Homo sapiens: one gene and its partner. The protein of the gene in region 1 purifies or fractionates together with the protein of each later gene. This does not show direct contact. Each region holds a gene or a part of one and is shown on either strand. Other genes may lie near its edges.

Region 1 (7,707 bases):
GGGAGCCTGTTTACTAGCAAGCTTGGAGGTGATTAGAACAAGTCACGAGCATGGACAGGGAGGAGGAGGGGGCCATGATGCTGCCTCTGGCTTATTAAGAGTGAGATCGATGCTGGAATCCCTGAGGGCAAAAAAAAATCAATGACCCAGGAAAACGACACCAGCTGACAGCCCCAGGAAAAGGCTCAAGGAAGAGCCGCAAAGAAGAGAAAGGCTTAAGGAACTTTCCAAAACTCTGCACTGCTAATCTCCTGGGGGGAGAAAGGGGCCTATATTGTACAGACAATGGCTGGGACCCCTGACATTCTGGCACTTTCTTTCACATGGATACACCATCCTCCCTCCTCCTTCACAGGGCAGAGGGATCCCAAGTTTCCTCTATCCTCTGCTAGTTTTTGATGTTCCCTTTATTTAGAAAAACAGGCAAGTATCTGCATTGTCAAACACTGCTCTCTAGCCCTGGTTATTGTGATCAGGCTCTGCAGGGGAGGATCCACTGTCTCCTTCCAGGCCTCAGTTTTGGTTTCTATGCACTCCTTCAAGTTCATAAAAAGGAACAGGACCGACTGTCCCAGGAACACAGGCGGCAAGCTTTGAGGCCACATGGGGTTCGCGTCAGCTGAAACACTGAACCGAACAATAAGATGGTCATCTTTGGAGCTTAGGAATTTGCAGAGGGAGGGCGGCTAAAATCCAAGTCAAATGAGCCAACTTTGGAAGATGATCTTTCTTTCTCCCTGAGATTTTTCTAATATTTCCCTGACCTCACATGATATAGAATTAAGGTTTAAATTTAAGTGCATCAGTGGTTTGGGAGGACATTATATTTCCTTTCTTCTCCCCAAAAGGCTTCTGACATGTTCTGCCTAATCTTCAGATCTCTGGAGAGCATCACTGATGAGAGGAAAAATGGGGGCTCGTTGTGGGTGGCAATATCACCACCTACTGCTGGCTCAGGGAGTTTGAAACCCTGGAATTTAGGTTCGTATGGAAAGCAGAAGAAAATGCCTTTTATCATTTATACTATTTAGAATAACATGTATCAAATCATTCATTTTACTAAGGAGTTGATAGCTCAACTCCACTGTATGTAACAGTTGCTAGATACAGACAATTCCAAACTTGGGTGGTAATCTATAGACTGTTACAAGTATTGCAACTGCTTCCCTAAAGCAACAGAACTCTAAGTGTCTATAATCTGTGAAAACAATCTAATGGTTACACTGCAATTTGCCTAAAGCAATATTTGTTCAGTTGCAATGATGTCACAAACACAAAAAGGCTTGTCAGTTTTCAATTATTTCCTTAGAATTCAGAGCTAGATGGTGGCTGAACTCAGAACTGCTTTCCATAGCTCAAATCAGCTAATACAGAGCTTTTCTAGCAGCCAAGAAAGTTCTAGTAGTACAAAAAAAAAAGTTAATAGCCCTTGAAAAGTCTGATGCATTTCCCCACAACTCTTACCACAGAGTTCTGATCCTGGGATGCTTGATTTTAAGGGCCGTGGGTGGCTTGCCAAATAGGCCTTATCTTGGCTTCCTTTGCTAGGTAGGAATACTGCCTTGATATTACATATTCAAAGCAAAGAACCTCTGACCTAAGGGCTCTCCACTAACAATGACATTCTCTGTAAGTAAACTAGAACCCCATCTCAACTTCTGGTTTGCCCTTGTTCTTTGCTATGTACTAGCCTACTGCACAAACAGGACTGAGGAGGACTCCCTTTACCACCATTATGTTGCAAAAGACTCTGCACTGAGGACCCGATAGGGACCGACTGTGCAAAGCCTGAACTTGGCAGAAGATCCCTGGAGAAGGAGGAGTATGGGGCTCAGAGCTGCTCCCTAAGCTGGGCTGGGGAAGGCTGAAGGCCTCCAGCCTTGCCAGAGGGAGATCCAGGTGTGCTTCAGCGGCAAGGACATGTGTTACCTTAAGCAACTGCAGCGCTAACTTAAGCATGTGCTCCTATGGCTATCGTCAACCTAGAAATCCCTTTCACTTTGGGGCGTCACACCTGTAAGCTCAGAACTATCTGAGATCCGCTGCGAGAGCCTGGATCACGATTCCCAAAAAGAAAAGCCTCCTAGTTTATTCGAGAGTAGGAAGTCATTATTTTCTGTGAAGGAAACTGGAATTGGAGAGGGAGGACCCTGGTACACTTTGGCAGAGAGGCTCCTCTCTCTTATCTAAGTATCTCCTCATCCCTCACTGCCTTTCCACCAGACCTCCAGTCCCCGCGGGCTTCCCTTTCTACCTGCCAATGTGGACTCGAGGTCAAGTGTCCCCTGGGCTAGTCTCCTTACATGGGCAAACGGGCTACGCGGGTGACAAACGCGGCGCAACGCCTCCGACCACAACACGTGTATTTTACAGCGCTGGGCGCGGCACAGGGCTCAGTTTAAGGAGCCTCCATAGAACGAGCGTGGCTCAGGACCAGGTCCCTAATGCTAGGAAATTGACGAGGTCAACAGCAGGGCGAGAAACTCTGAATACATTACACACCCTTCCTTCTTGGGAGTGGCAGTCCCCCGTCGCCACTTCACTCGCAGCCATCTATATGCCAAGGGCTCACACCAGACAAGTGTCTGTGAGCACGCCTCAACTTTAATCCTACCCCGCCGTGTCCACTGGTGCGGCTGCCCCCAGTCGAGGGTTCACCTGGGCGCTCCGCGGTGCCGGGGGCACACAGCCAGGGAGGGCGCTCTTACCAGAGAAGTCGGTGAGCGCTGAGATCTCTTTGGAGCAGACCAGGACAGTGCAGTAGAAGAGGCGCAGGAGCTGCCCCGGCGGCTCTACCTGCCGGCGGAGGCCGGGATGCTGCACGGGCTGGGGCGTCGGCGGTTGGCGTGCGCGTCCCGGCAGAAGCATCGTGCGCTGCGCGGCGGGGCGGAGGCGCAGGCCCGGGACGCGCTGGGGGTCGCAGGGCTAAGGACGGCGTCACATGGCGGGGAGAATCGATGGCCAGCGGCTCCGCGGCCCCCCGCCGCCTCCCTGCCCAGGCTGCCAGAGCCTCCTCCCCTGCGCGGGCCAGCCCAGGCGCCCCAGCAAAGGGGAGGGGGCGGAGAACTGGGGCGGGGCGAGGATCCCCGAAAAGGATCCGCGTAGTTTCCCCGAGAGGAAATCTCCGTTGCCGCCGTGCCGGAGGAAGCGAGGGGGGCCGTAGGGAAAGCGCAGCCTTCGCGCGCCCCGCGGCTGCCCAGGCCGATCCCTGGCGCGCTGCCCACCGCGGAGGGCGCCCCCAGTAGCGCGCCCCGGGCCGCGCACCTTGAGCGCCTTCCACACCCGGGAAACAGCCGGGCACCCGTGGCCCTGCCCGCGCTGGCCGGGTGCCAGCCTCGCCCTGGCGGCAGAAGGAGCGCGGCCGGTGCCCGTGACGCACTTTGGAGCCAGCGCCGCGCGTGCAGCTGGGGCGCCCCCGGGGCGGGGCCGATCGGGGGCCGCAGGAAGGTGGGGTCCTGGAGGCGTGGGATCGCACCGCTGCCATCCCCGCCACCCGCCGCGCGCCACGTGCAGTCACCCGGCACATACAGTTATCGCCATTCCACAGAAGAGGAGACTGAGCCCCGGCGCCGTGCCCAAGCTCTCGCAGCCAGGACGGCGACGAGCTGGAGGTCTCAAAACCGGTCAGATGGCTCCGGAGCCGGGATCTTTAGCTCCAGCTCGGCTTCCTTTGGGTGCTGGTTGTCCGCAGCGCTGGGGGATCTGACACTGCACCGGCGCAAACAGCCGCCGAGCGCTAATAATTGGGCTTTGTTTTAAAGTGGGCCACAGCATCTTTCTGAACCTCTAGACTGTGCGCGGGGTGACCCACGTTCGGACGCCCAGCCAGTGGCCTAGGAGTGGCCTGCGTAGCCCCAACTCAAGGGTATCGAGGACAAGTGCGCGAGGGGCTCCGTGGCTGCTTGCCGGGTGCGGGTACCTGGCGCCCAGCGACCCAAACCCTATGGATCGCGCGGGGCCGGCGGAAGGGAGGAGGGCGGGCGCTAGGCACACAGTGTTCCCGAACCCGGCGGGAGGGCCTGCCAAGTTCGCGGCGGGCGTGACGCGGAAACGTAGATAATGAGGCCCAGGGCGGGGCCGGACGCACTGCCCCGCGGGCTCCAGAGCTGCGAACGCCCCAGAGTGTGCAGGGAGGCCTGCAGAAAGAAAATGCGGCTGAGGGTCCCCGTGGGACCCACTCAGAGGTGGGCCGTAAAGATCCCGGAAGGGTGGATGGCATTAGATACCACCTAGTACTCCAGCAAGGGCTGGGTCACCGAATTGGGATCTCGGCCTCTTCTTCCAGTCTGGGGAAAAGTGTGTTAAATGCTAAACATCAGTGTTTATCGAGTGAGGCCCAGCCTGTCTGGCATAATGATTTTTAAAATCTACATTCAAATATTAAATAAAAACTCAACCTCCCCAATAACATTTGAACATAAATATTAGTGTGCGCTCTCTAGGTTAGGGAAACTGAAGCTGGGAGTGTGGGTAAGGATGCCCAGCACTTAGGAGCCACAGGGTAAGTAATGTTTGTCCAAAACTCGGGTCCCTCCTGTACTTTCCATTCTGTCTGTTCATTCATCCAGTTTAGATATGAATTGGTACCAACGTGTGCCAGGTTCTGCGCTAGTGACTGACAGTGTTGGCACAGGGAGGCAGCCATGCTCCCGAGTCCTGGGAGTGGGCAGCACTGCCCTGTGGGTCTGCACTGGCTTCCAAATGTCTAAGTGGGCACTGTTACTCACTGTGACAGCATCCCCAGGCTTTCTTACCTGGTAAAGCAGAAACTCAAACATACTTACACACCAATATTCATTGCAGCATTATTTATGATGGCCAAAAGATGGAAGCAACTCCAGTGGATGAATGCATACAGTTACTATTACAGCAGGGAAGACAGACATTGGAAAATAATGCCCCGTGAACGGACAGTCACGAAAGACAGGAACCATGGGAGCAGAAGCGAGGAATGAAGGAGCTGAGCCCGAGGGAGGAAGGGAGATATTCAGGAGCATTTTAAGGCAAGATGGATGAGAAAGCTAGAGGATGAATTGGCCAAGCAAAAACTAGCAAAACCCGGGTGTTGCGGGAGGATGAACATTTTAGAAAAAGGGACCAGCATGTTGAAATCCAAAAGGAGCATGGCTGTCTTGAAGGATGGGGAAAAGTCTAGACAGCTGGAGCAGAGCAAAGGGAAGAGCCAGGGGACTTGGAGGTAGGCAGGCCAGAGCTCAGGGCCCTGGAGACTTTGGTGAGAATTTCCGTCTTTTATCTTAAGCCAGCAAAGAACTGTAAGTACAAAAGTGATGTGATTGGATGTGTGTTGGTAAAAAGTCCTTCTCGGCTGCTGAGTGCAAATGGACTGGAGGAGTCAAAAGCAGGCCCTGGAAGTATGTGTGCCAAATAACTAAAAGCAGAGACAGACTCAAACAGATACTTATGCACCAATATTCCTTGCAGCATTATTTAGAAGAGCTGACAGATGGAAGAACCTCAGTGGATGAATGGATAAACAATATATGGCATGTGGCCGGCTGCAGTGGCTGGTGCCTGTAATCCCAGCACTTTGGGAGGCCGAGGTGGGTGGATCACCTGAGGTCAGGAGTTCAAGACCAGCCTGACCCACACGGTGAAACCCCATCTCTACTAAAAATACAATATTAGCCAGGTATGGCGGCACACGCTTGTAGTCCCACCTACTCGGGAGGCTGAGGCAGGAGTATTGCTTGAACCCGGGAGGCAGAGGCTGCAGTGAGCCAAGGTTGCACCACTGCACTCCAGCCTGGGCAAGACAGAGCGAGACTCCGTCTCAAAAAAGAAAAGTGGGTCTGGGGAGATGGCCGTGGTGAGGGAGAGAGTGCAGTCAGGGGTTTATGGCTGTGCTTGGGCTGATGTGCTCGCTGTACACCCAGAAAGAAGAGGAGAAGCGGCCACAATGGAAGGATGTTTAGAAGGCAGATGGACAGCACAATGCGACCGGGCAGTCGTGGGCTATGAGAGGGTCTGAAGGACGTCTCCCTGGCTTCCCTCTGTTTTGTCCCTTAGCCCCTCACTGTTAAATCAGAAGATTTTGGTCCTAATCTGATCTCTTTAAGAATTTTGGAATCTTGCGAGAAAACTGAATTGCTCAGTTATCTTTCTCTCTGGACCCCACACTTTTCTAAGAGCTTTGTAGGTCAAATACCTTAACTCTGAGGCACTATAACAACTCATAGGACGGAAAAGTGGGAAAAGGAATATATGTTTCAAAGAGGGATGAACAGTGTAAAATCAATCTGGGGTCTGGAGAGAAATAATCTTTTCCACCGAGGCAGTTTTCCTTAAATGCTTTCTACTATGATGGAATTTGAATAATAAAAACAGTCATAGCCACTTGGTATTTCAACACAGTTATGGGAGCTGGAATTAAAGTGAATGATGACTGGTGTGCCAAATAATAAAGTGTTTCCAAAATATTAATACTCACAACAACCCTTTGAGATAGGTACTAACTAGGCTAACTACGTCATTTACTTGCCCAGTGCAAAACGAAAATGTGGGGCCCCTCGTTCAAGGATTATTAAGAATTCCAGGATGATAATAGCAGAGCATTAAACCAAGCATAGTTTAATGCTTTGAACACAGGGCCCTGAGTGATTGCTCAGGTCATATGAAGCTGGCCCAGGTACAACAGGAATCTTCATTTCTCAGATGGGGAGACTGAGGGCACAGAGTCATACTGACCGTCCGAACCAAGACTTGAAGCCCTCTTATACTGCAAAGGCACAGCAATTAGGTGGAGGTAAAATAAAGGGTTCTTTTCTAAGTGATGGCACCATTGGGCAATCTTGTTCCTTCTTGTACTAGTTTGAAAAGTGCCTCTGTAGTCACAGCATTCAGTCCATGTGTGCAAGAGGCAACCTTTACAGGACATTGTAAATTACACGTCTTACTTTCTGTCTCTTTGTTTTCTTTTAAAGCAATTCCTGCACCTTCTTTTCAGCTCCATGTTACATCTCTATTTTCCTTCTTCCTTGAGATCCTAGCTACTTGTCTCTCACCCTCTGCCATATCCAAGCCTATTTATTTTTTCTTTAGGTGGAGTCTTGCTCTGTTGCCCAAGCTGGAGTGCAGTGGCACGATCTTGGCTCACTGATATCTCCGCCTCCTGGGTTCAAGTGATTCTCCTGACTTAGCCTCCCAAGTAGCTGGGATGACAGGTGTGCACCACCACACCCAGCAAATTTTTTTTCTTCTTCTTCTTTTTCTTTTGTATTTTTAGTAGCGACAGGGTTTCACCTTGTTGGCTGGGCCGGTCTTGAACTCCTGACCTCAGGTGATCCACCCACCTCGGCCTCCCATAGTGCCGTGATTACAGGCTTGAGCCACCAGGCCCAGCCACCAAGCCTATTATGGGAGATGTTTATGTGCTTCACACTCAGACTGCAACCCTGAGCCATGTCCTCTCACCTGGGCCATTGAGGTAAGGTTTTTGGCTTCCAACAAATGGGCTGTAGCCCTTCTGAGAAGACATAAGCTGCCATTTGGAAACCTCAAAGAAACCAACCTTTCAGCTCAGGAGAGAGAGGCCCAATGTCGTCTGGAGCTTAAAAGGCTTTTTTTTAGAAAGCAACAAATGGTAGTTTGTTTCTAGAGCTGGCACCACAGAGCCGCATCAATAGCAAGGAGCCTGCTTGGTCAGAACTGCAAAAGCCACAGTGCACTAGAAAAGTTGTGTGGGAAGGT
Region 2 (7,035 bases), on another chromosome or scaffold:
AGAGAAGTCAGAAACGTCTAGGATCACTTTACACTCTCAAGAGTATGTTTCTGTGCTTGAAGAGATGAATGAATGTGTATAGTAAAAGAACAACTCTTGGATTTGGGTTTAGAATTTGATGAGCTAGATGCTGTGTTAAGGAGTTATGAAACAATCACACATTGCTGTTTAGTGATGACAGTAGACACACAGTTTTCACAATAGTAACAGTTGAACAATAGAGCAGTAATTTTTCCTCTCTGCTATTCAGATGAGTGGGAGGAGCACAAACCTTTATTTGAGGTAAGGTGTGGCAATTTGCCCGAGGGAAACTTTTACATTAGCATTGGAAAGAACCTTTGGGAGTTTATTTAATTCAGTCCTTTATCTCTTTGTAGGAGTTTATTAAAATCAGTCTTGATAGAAAATTCTGTACTGTTTTTAAAGATCTCCAGGGGATTTGCAGCAAGTTTTTCTCTATAGCAAATTGGATTATTATTCCATGATCTTAATTACCAAATTTCTTCCTGTGGATTTAACATTTGATGAAATAAATGCCATGTTTTGGTTGCACCTGAAATATAGTAGTTTGTTTGTGTGTTTGTTTTTAAAACTTCACGTTAACAGCTCTTTTTAAAAGAGCTTCCATTTCTTTATAGAAGTTTTGAGATTTAGGTTTTCCTTTTACTTTCCTGAGTTAGTTAATAAGTGTGAAAGAAAAAAAGTTATCTACCTTTGAGACAGTTTTGACCCTAACTTTTTTCCCTTTGGGTGTAGTTTTAATGAGATATTAGAAGGATGAGAGCTCTCTGGCTTACAGAATAAAAAATTCTATCTCAAGGAATTGGGGCAAAAGTTGTGTTCTTATGTTAAATAATAAGCAAAGTAGAAAGAACAAAGTGTTAGTCTTGCTTCTTAGGAGGAGGCAAATAAATAACTAATAAAGCTGGTTTACTAAATAGCTACTAGCTTTTGTTTCCACTGAGGGAGAAACAGTAACTGGGGGTTTATATGTGATAGTTAAGGAAAAGGAGACGATAGTTATGAGGCTAGAACAGTAGAAATAGTTAGAATAGTCATATATCTATTTAGATTTAGCAGATCCTGATAAGATACCTCAGATACCTGAAGGCTTTTCAGAAATAATGTAATTTACAACTTGGAGGACAAGATTTTCATTTCAGTTTTCACTCTAAGGGGAAGCATATCTTGATTCTTACATAGCTGCATCTGAAGAATTCCAGAGTTATTTGAGATACTCAGGAATTTTCTTTAACAGGAATTCTTGGGAAATGTGTAAGCAGCTATGTTCTTAAGATAGTATTTTAGAACTAGGATGTTCAGAAAAGTCAGACTTGCCCACTTTTTAGGGTTTGCCCATGTGCCATAGAAATTTGCACCGCTTTGAGCAAGACAGTTAATTGGTTGATTTAATTAGATTCAGTTTTTGGAAGAAAGAAGCAGTGTTTATTGGTAGAATAGGCAATTCAGAGGGATGGGTAGAGGCACTGTTTGCATTCTGAGTGGGTGTGCCATACTTGATTAAATAAATGGTTTGTGGACTCAAAGTCAGTTCCCTTCTGGGTAGTTTCTGAGAAGCTTCTGTAATATAATTCACAATTTGTGACCGATAAAAAAGTAAGTCCTTTGCTCTTGACCCATTTACTGTTAGAAAATTTATCTTAAGTTTGTCTTTAAGACTACTTTTTATTGCAAAGCTTGAGGCAGCTATTCTTCCTTTTTTAAAAAAATAATTTTTACTTCTCATTATAGAAATAATACATGTTTAATGTGGGATCATAAAACATTGAGATAATCTCTGCGTTAGGTTTTTTTTTTTTTGAGACGGAGTCTCACTCTGTCGCCCAGGCTGGAGTGCAGTGGCGCCATCTCAGTTCACTGCAGCCTCCACCTCCCGGGTTCAAGCGATTCTCCAGCCTCAGCCTCCTGAGTAGCTGGGATTACAGGCATGCGCCACCACGCCTGGCTGATTTTTGCATTTGTAGTAGAGACAAGGTTTCACAGTGTTGGCCAGGCTGGTCTCGAACTCCTGACCTCAGGTGATCCACCTGCCTCCGCCTCCCAAAGTGCTGGGATTACAGGCGTGAGCCACCACGCCTAGCCGGAGGTTTGTTTTTTAATGTGGTCTATTGTAAATCCATCTGCTACTTTCCGTTAATTTCTTTTCTTTCTTTTTTTTTTTTTTTTTGGCGAGATAGGGTCTCGCTCCAGCCTGGCCTGCAGTAGCACAGTCATAGCTTACTGCGGCCTCAACTTCTCGGGCTCAAGCGATCCTCCCATCTCAGCCTCCCAAGTAGCTGGGTCCACAGGTGTGCACCACTACAGTGGGCTAATTTTTTTTTTTGAGACAGAGTCTTGCTCTGTCACCCAGGCTGGAGTGCAGTGGCGCGATCTTGGCTCACTGCAAGCTCTACTTCCCAGGTTCACACCATTCTCCTGCCTCAGCCTCCCGAGTAGCTGGGACTACAGGTGCTCACCAACACACCCGGCTAATTTTTTTTTTTTTTTTGTATTTTTAGTAGAGACAGGGTTTCCCCATGTTAGCCAGGATGGTCTCGCTCTCCTGACCTTGTAATCCGCCTGCCTCAGTCTCCCAAAGTGCTGGAATTACAGGCTTGAGCCACCATGCCTGGCCTTTTTTTTTTTTTTTTTTTGTAGAGATGGGTCTTACTATGTTCCCCAGGCTAGTCTCTTTTTTACTTAAACAAACAAACAAAAATAAATAAAAATATATATATATAAAGAGAGAGGGAGACAGAGAGAGAGGGAGACAGAGTCTCACTATGTTGCCCAGGCTGATCTCAAACTGTTGGGTACAATCGATCCTCCTGCCTTGGCCTCCTGAAGTGCTGAGATTATAGGTGTGAGCCACCGCACCCAGCCACCCAGGCTGGTCTCAGACTCCTGACCACAAGCATCCTCCTGCTTCAGCCTACCAAAGTGCTGGGATTACAGCCACTGTAGCAGACTATTTTGTGATAATTTCTAAGTACAGTGAAATATGCGGTTGTACTGATACTATGGGTGTGATCCAGTCTTACTCCAAAAAATAGGTATTAAGGGCTGGGCACAGTGGCTCATACCTGTAATCCCAGCACTAAGGGAAGCCAAGGTGTAAGGATTGCTTGAGCCCAGGAGTTCAAGATCAGCCTGGGCAACGTGGCGAGACCCCATCTCTATTTAATTAAAAAATAATAAGGTATATGACCAGGTACCGTGGCTCACGCCTGTAATCCCAGCACTTTGGGAAGCCGAGATGGGCGGATCACTTGAGGTCAGGAGTTTGAGACCAGCCTGGCCAACATGGTGAAACCCCGTCTCTACTAAAAATGTAAAAATTAGCCGGGTGTGGTGGTGTGTGCCTATAATCCCAGCTACTCTGGGAGTCTGAGGTAGTAGAATCGCTTGAACCCAGGAGGTGGAAGTTGCAGTGAGCCAAGATGGTGCCACTGCACTTCAGCTTGGGCGACAGTGAGACTCTGTCTCAACAAAACAAAACAAAACAAAACCTCAGTTAGATACCATTTCACACCACTAGGATTGCTAAAATAATAAACCAGGTATTAAGTGTTCATGAGGATATAGAGAAATTAGAATCCTGATACATTGCTGGTGGGATTATAAAATGATGCAGCCACTTTAGGAAACAGTTAAACATAGAGTTAGCATGTGGCCCAGTAATTCTACTCCCAAGAAAAATGAAACATATGTTCCTGCAGAAACTTGTATATTAATTATAATAGCAGCATTGTTGATTGATTGATTGATTGATTCAGGGTGTTACTGTTACCCAGGCTGGCAGGACATGGCTCACCGCAGCCTCCACCTCCTGGGCTCAATCAATCCTCCCACCTCAGCCTCCCAAGTATCTGGGACTGCAGGCATATGCCACCATGAGTGGCAAAATTTTTTTTTTTTTGAGACAGAGTCTCACTCCGTTGCCCAGGCTGGGGTGCAGTGTGGCTCACTGCAACCTCCACCCCACTGGTTCAAGCAGTTCTCCTGCCTCCGCCTTCCGAGTAGCTGGGACTACAGGCACATGCCACCACGCCCAGCTAATTTTTTATATTTTTAGTAGAGATGGGGTTTCACCATGTTGGTCAGGCTGGTCTCAGACTCCTGACCTAAGTGATCCATCCGCTTCGGACTTCCAAAGTGCTGGAATTACAGGCGTGAACCACTGTGTCTAGCCCCACGTTATTTATAATAGCCAAAAAGTAGAAACAATCCAAATGTCTATCAACTGATGAGTAGATAAAATATGGTATATCCATATAAAAGGATATTATTCAGCAATACTACTGAAGGAATGCAGTACTAATACATGCAGGAGAATACTACATTGTTTATGGCCATGTGTTTATATAGTGAAAGTATTTAAAAATACAGGGGAATGATAAACACCAAATTCCCAATTCTTCTGAGGAGGAAAGGAAATATAGCATTTCCCCAGGACAGACTTCTTAAAAGGATTGGAGAACTACTTAAACATGTCAGATCTTGACACTGTCCTGATGGCCTCCTGTCACTAATAACAGAATACAAAATGGGGTTTACAAGGCCCACCATGAACTTTCCCATCCCTCTCTGACTTCATATCCTGCCAGGTCACTGCTTTCTAGCCAATCCGGGCTTTCTGATGTTCCCCAAACACATTGCCATCAAGCACCCCTCCCTGGGGCCTTATTATTATTATTATTATTATTATTATTATTATTATTATTATTTTGAGATGGAGCCTCAATCTGTCACCCAGGCTGGAGTGCAGTGATGTGATCTCGGCTCACTGCAACCTCCGCCTCCAAGTTCAAATGATTCTCCTGTCTCAGCCTCCCAAAGTGCTGGAATTACAGGCGTGACCTACCACGCCTGGGGTCCCTGGGGCTTTAGCCTTTACAGTTACCTCAGCCTGGAAAGCTTTTTCACAGAGTTCTCTTCCCTACTCCAAGTCCATCTGCTTACACCTTACCTCCACCCTGTTTAAAATGCTCTTTTTCCACGATTTTATTCTGATTGTAGCAGTGTGATCTGATACAGTATATCTATTTGCTTATCTGTTGTCTGCCTCTCTCACAGGAGTGTATTTCTAGTGCTCAGATCATGCCTAGCTCATAGCAGGGACTCAATAAGTATTGAATGAATAACTTTAATGTTTTATTTAATGGAAAAAAGATCTAAAGCATATAAGCTAAATCTTAAGTTTTGATAAAGCTAGATGTTGAATACAGTTTTATTTCTATTTTTTTGATGATAATTACTGTGTCATATTTCATACATACTCTGCTGGTTGACAAAAACTAGCTCCCTAAAATAATGTTACAGACATAAGTAAGAAATGGATTGTGGTGACACATAAGCTGTTAAAGAAACCCGTAGCCTAATTTATAGTGTATCAGGTTTGCAAGTGGTTTAAAACAATAGCGGTTTACTGAATGTTCTTACTAGCGTGAGGGGAGAGCTTGTGAGAAGTAGGAAGAGGCCAGAGAAGGTCCTGGGGTCTGGCACACTCTGATATGCTTCATCACCTCTCCCTAAGCTCTCCCTACAGGGCAGTGGGGCCAGTGGTGACTTTTGCGGCACCCTCTCCATTGTCTTACCAAGGGCTTCAGCTGTGAGACGCCGGTTGGTGCTACAAGGAAGGGGAAACGTGTCAGCTCTTTCCTCTGCTCTTTTCTCACATTGATTTCAAATGCCAAGAAGCTGGGCTGAGAAACCGGGCTTGTGATCCTGGTTGTACTGCAGTCCACCATGTGCTGGAGAGCTCTGCAGGTTGTGCTAAAGGGTAGTGTCTTTATTGCCTCCTGTATAAGCTTGACTTTTACATAGGCAAGCAGGTTATTTCCAGGACAACTAAATTAGTTGGTGCGAAACCTCATTTCCTAGAAACCCATTTTCTTAGTAGAGGAAACCCATATAACCATTTGTCTCCATGTAAGTGTAGCTAATAACATGAATAACAAAAATAGCTAATTATTTAAATAGCAAAAATAAGTATGGAAGATGAATTTGCAGTAAAATTCTAATATTAAGCCACTGATTATTTTAAAACAATCAGATTAAGTTGTAGTACCTCTGAAATAATTAAAGGAAAATTTGATTCTTAGAAAATCTCAATTCATTGGAAAGCCATGGAATTAATAAAATAAAAAAAGAAAATCTCAGGCAATATAAACTAAGGAATGGCAAATGGAAAATGTATTGATTGGTGGAAAAGTAATTGCGGTTTTTGACATTGAAAGTAATTACTTTTGCCATTACTTTTAATGGCGGAAACCATTTAATGGCAATTACTTTTGCACCAACCTATAAATAATTGGACTCTAGTTCCAACTTTGATATTTAGCTTTCCCATGACTGTTGACAAATTGCTTAATCTACTTTCCTTGATTTTGTCAGTCAAATGAGGAGGAAGAGACAGCTTGAGAAACATTTGTAAGAGAAATGCTTATTACTTTGTATGTGTTTTTCGTCTTACATATTAAATATAAATTCCTTTAGGTGATATTCTTTAAAATGATTTCCTTACTTCCTTTTATATTTACATCCATTTTCTCTTAAAAAAACAAACAAACAAAATACTGCACAATTCTTGAAGACAAGGATTACCTCTTACCTCTTATTTGTTTCATGAAATATAGAGTACAATTTTTTTTTTTTTTGAGATGGGTCTTGTTCTATCACCCAGGCTGGAGTGCAGTGGCGCCATCATGGCTCACTGCAGCTTCAACCTTCTGGGCTCAGGAGATCCTCCTATCTCAGCCTCCCCAGTAGCTGGGACTACATTCATGCACCACCACATCCGGCTAACTTTTGAAAATGTTGTGTAGAGATAGGGTTTCACTATGTTGTCCAGGCTGGTTTTAAACTCCTGGGTCCAAGCAATCCTCCCGCCTTGGCCTCCCAAAGTGTTGGGATTACAGGCGTGAGCTCCTGTGCCCAGCCTAGAGTACAGTTCTTGACATATAGATAGAAATTAAGTATTTGTAGAATGAGTGGAAAAAAAAATGAAATGATTATGTTGATTTTGAGTTTCTC

The links. The genes of interacting proteins can lie anywhere in the genome.
Region 2: the proteins of EVA1C (region 1) and SPTLC2 purify together in Homo sapiens (affinity purification with mass spectrometry; 4 studies listed by BioGRID and IntAct, with this or other methods). This does not show direct contact.

What each region holds. Positions count from the first base shown.
Region 1 is NC_000021.9:32,408,015-32,415,721, reverse strand, and holds the start of EVA1C (protein eva-1 homolog C isoform 1 precursor), read right to left. Parts: upstream 3,017-7,707; 5' UTR 2,869-3,016; coding exon 2,709-2,868; intron 1-2,708. UniProt on the Homo sapiens protein: Binds heparin.
Region 2 is NC_000014.9:77,606,612-77,613,646, reverse strand, and holds part of SPTLC2 (serine palmitoyltransferase 2), read left to right. Parts: intron 1-7,035. UniProt on the Homo sapiens protein: Component of the serine palmitoyltransferase multisubunit enzyme (SPT) that catalyzes the initial and rate-limiting step in sphingolipid biosynthesis by condensing L-serine and activated acyl-CoA (most commonly palmitoyl-CoA) to form long-chain bases.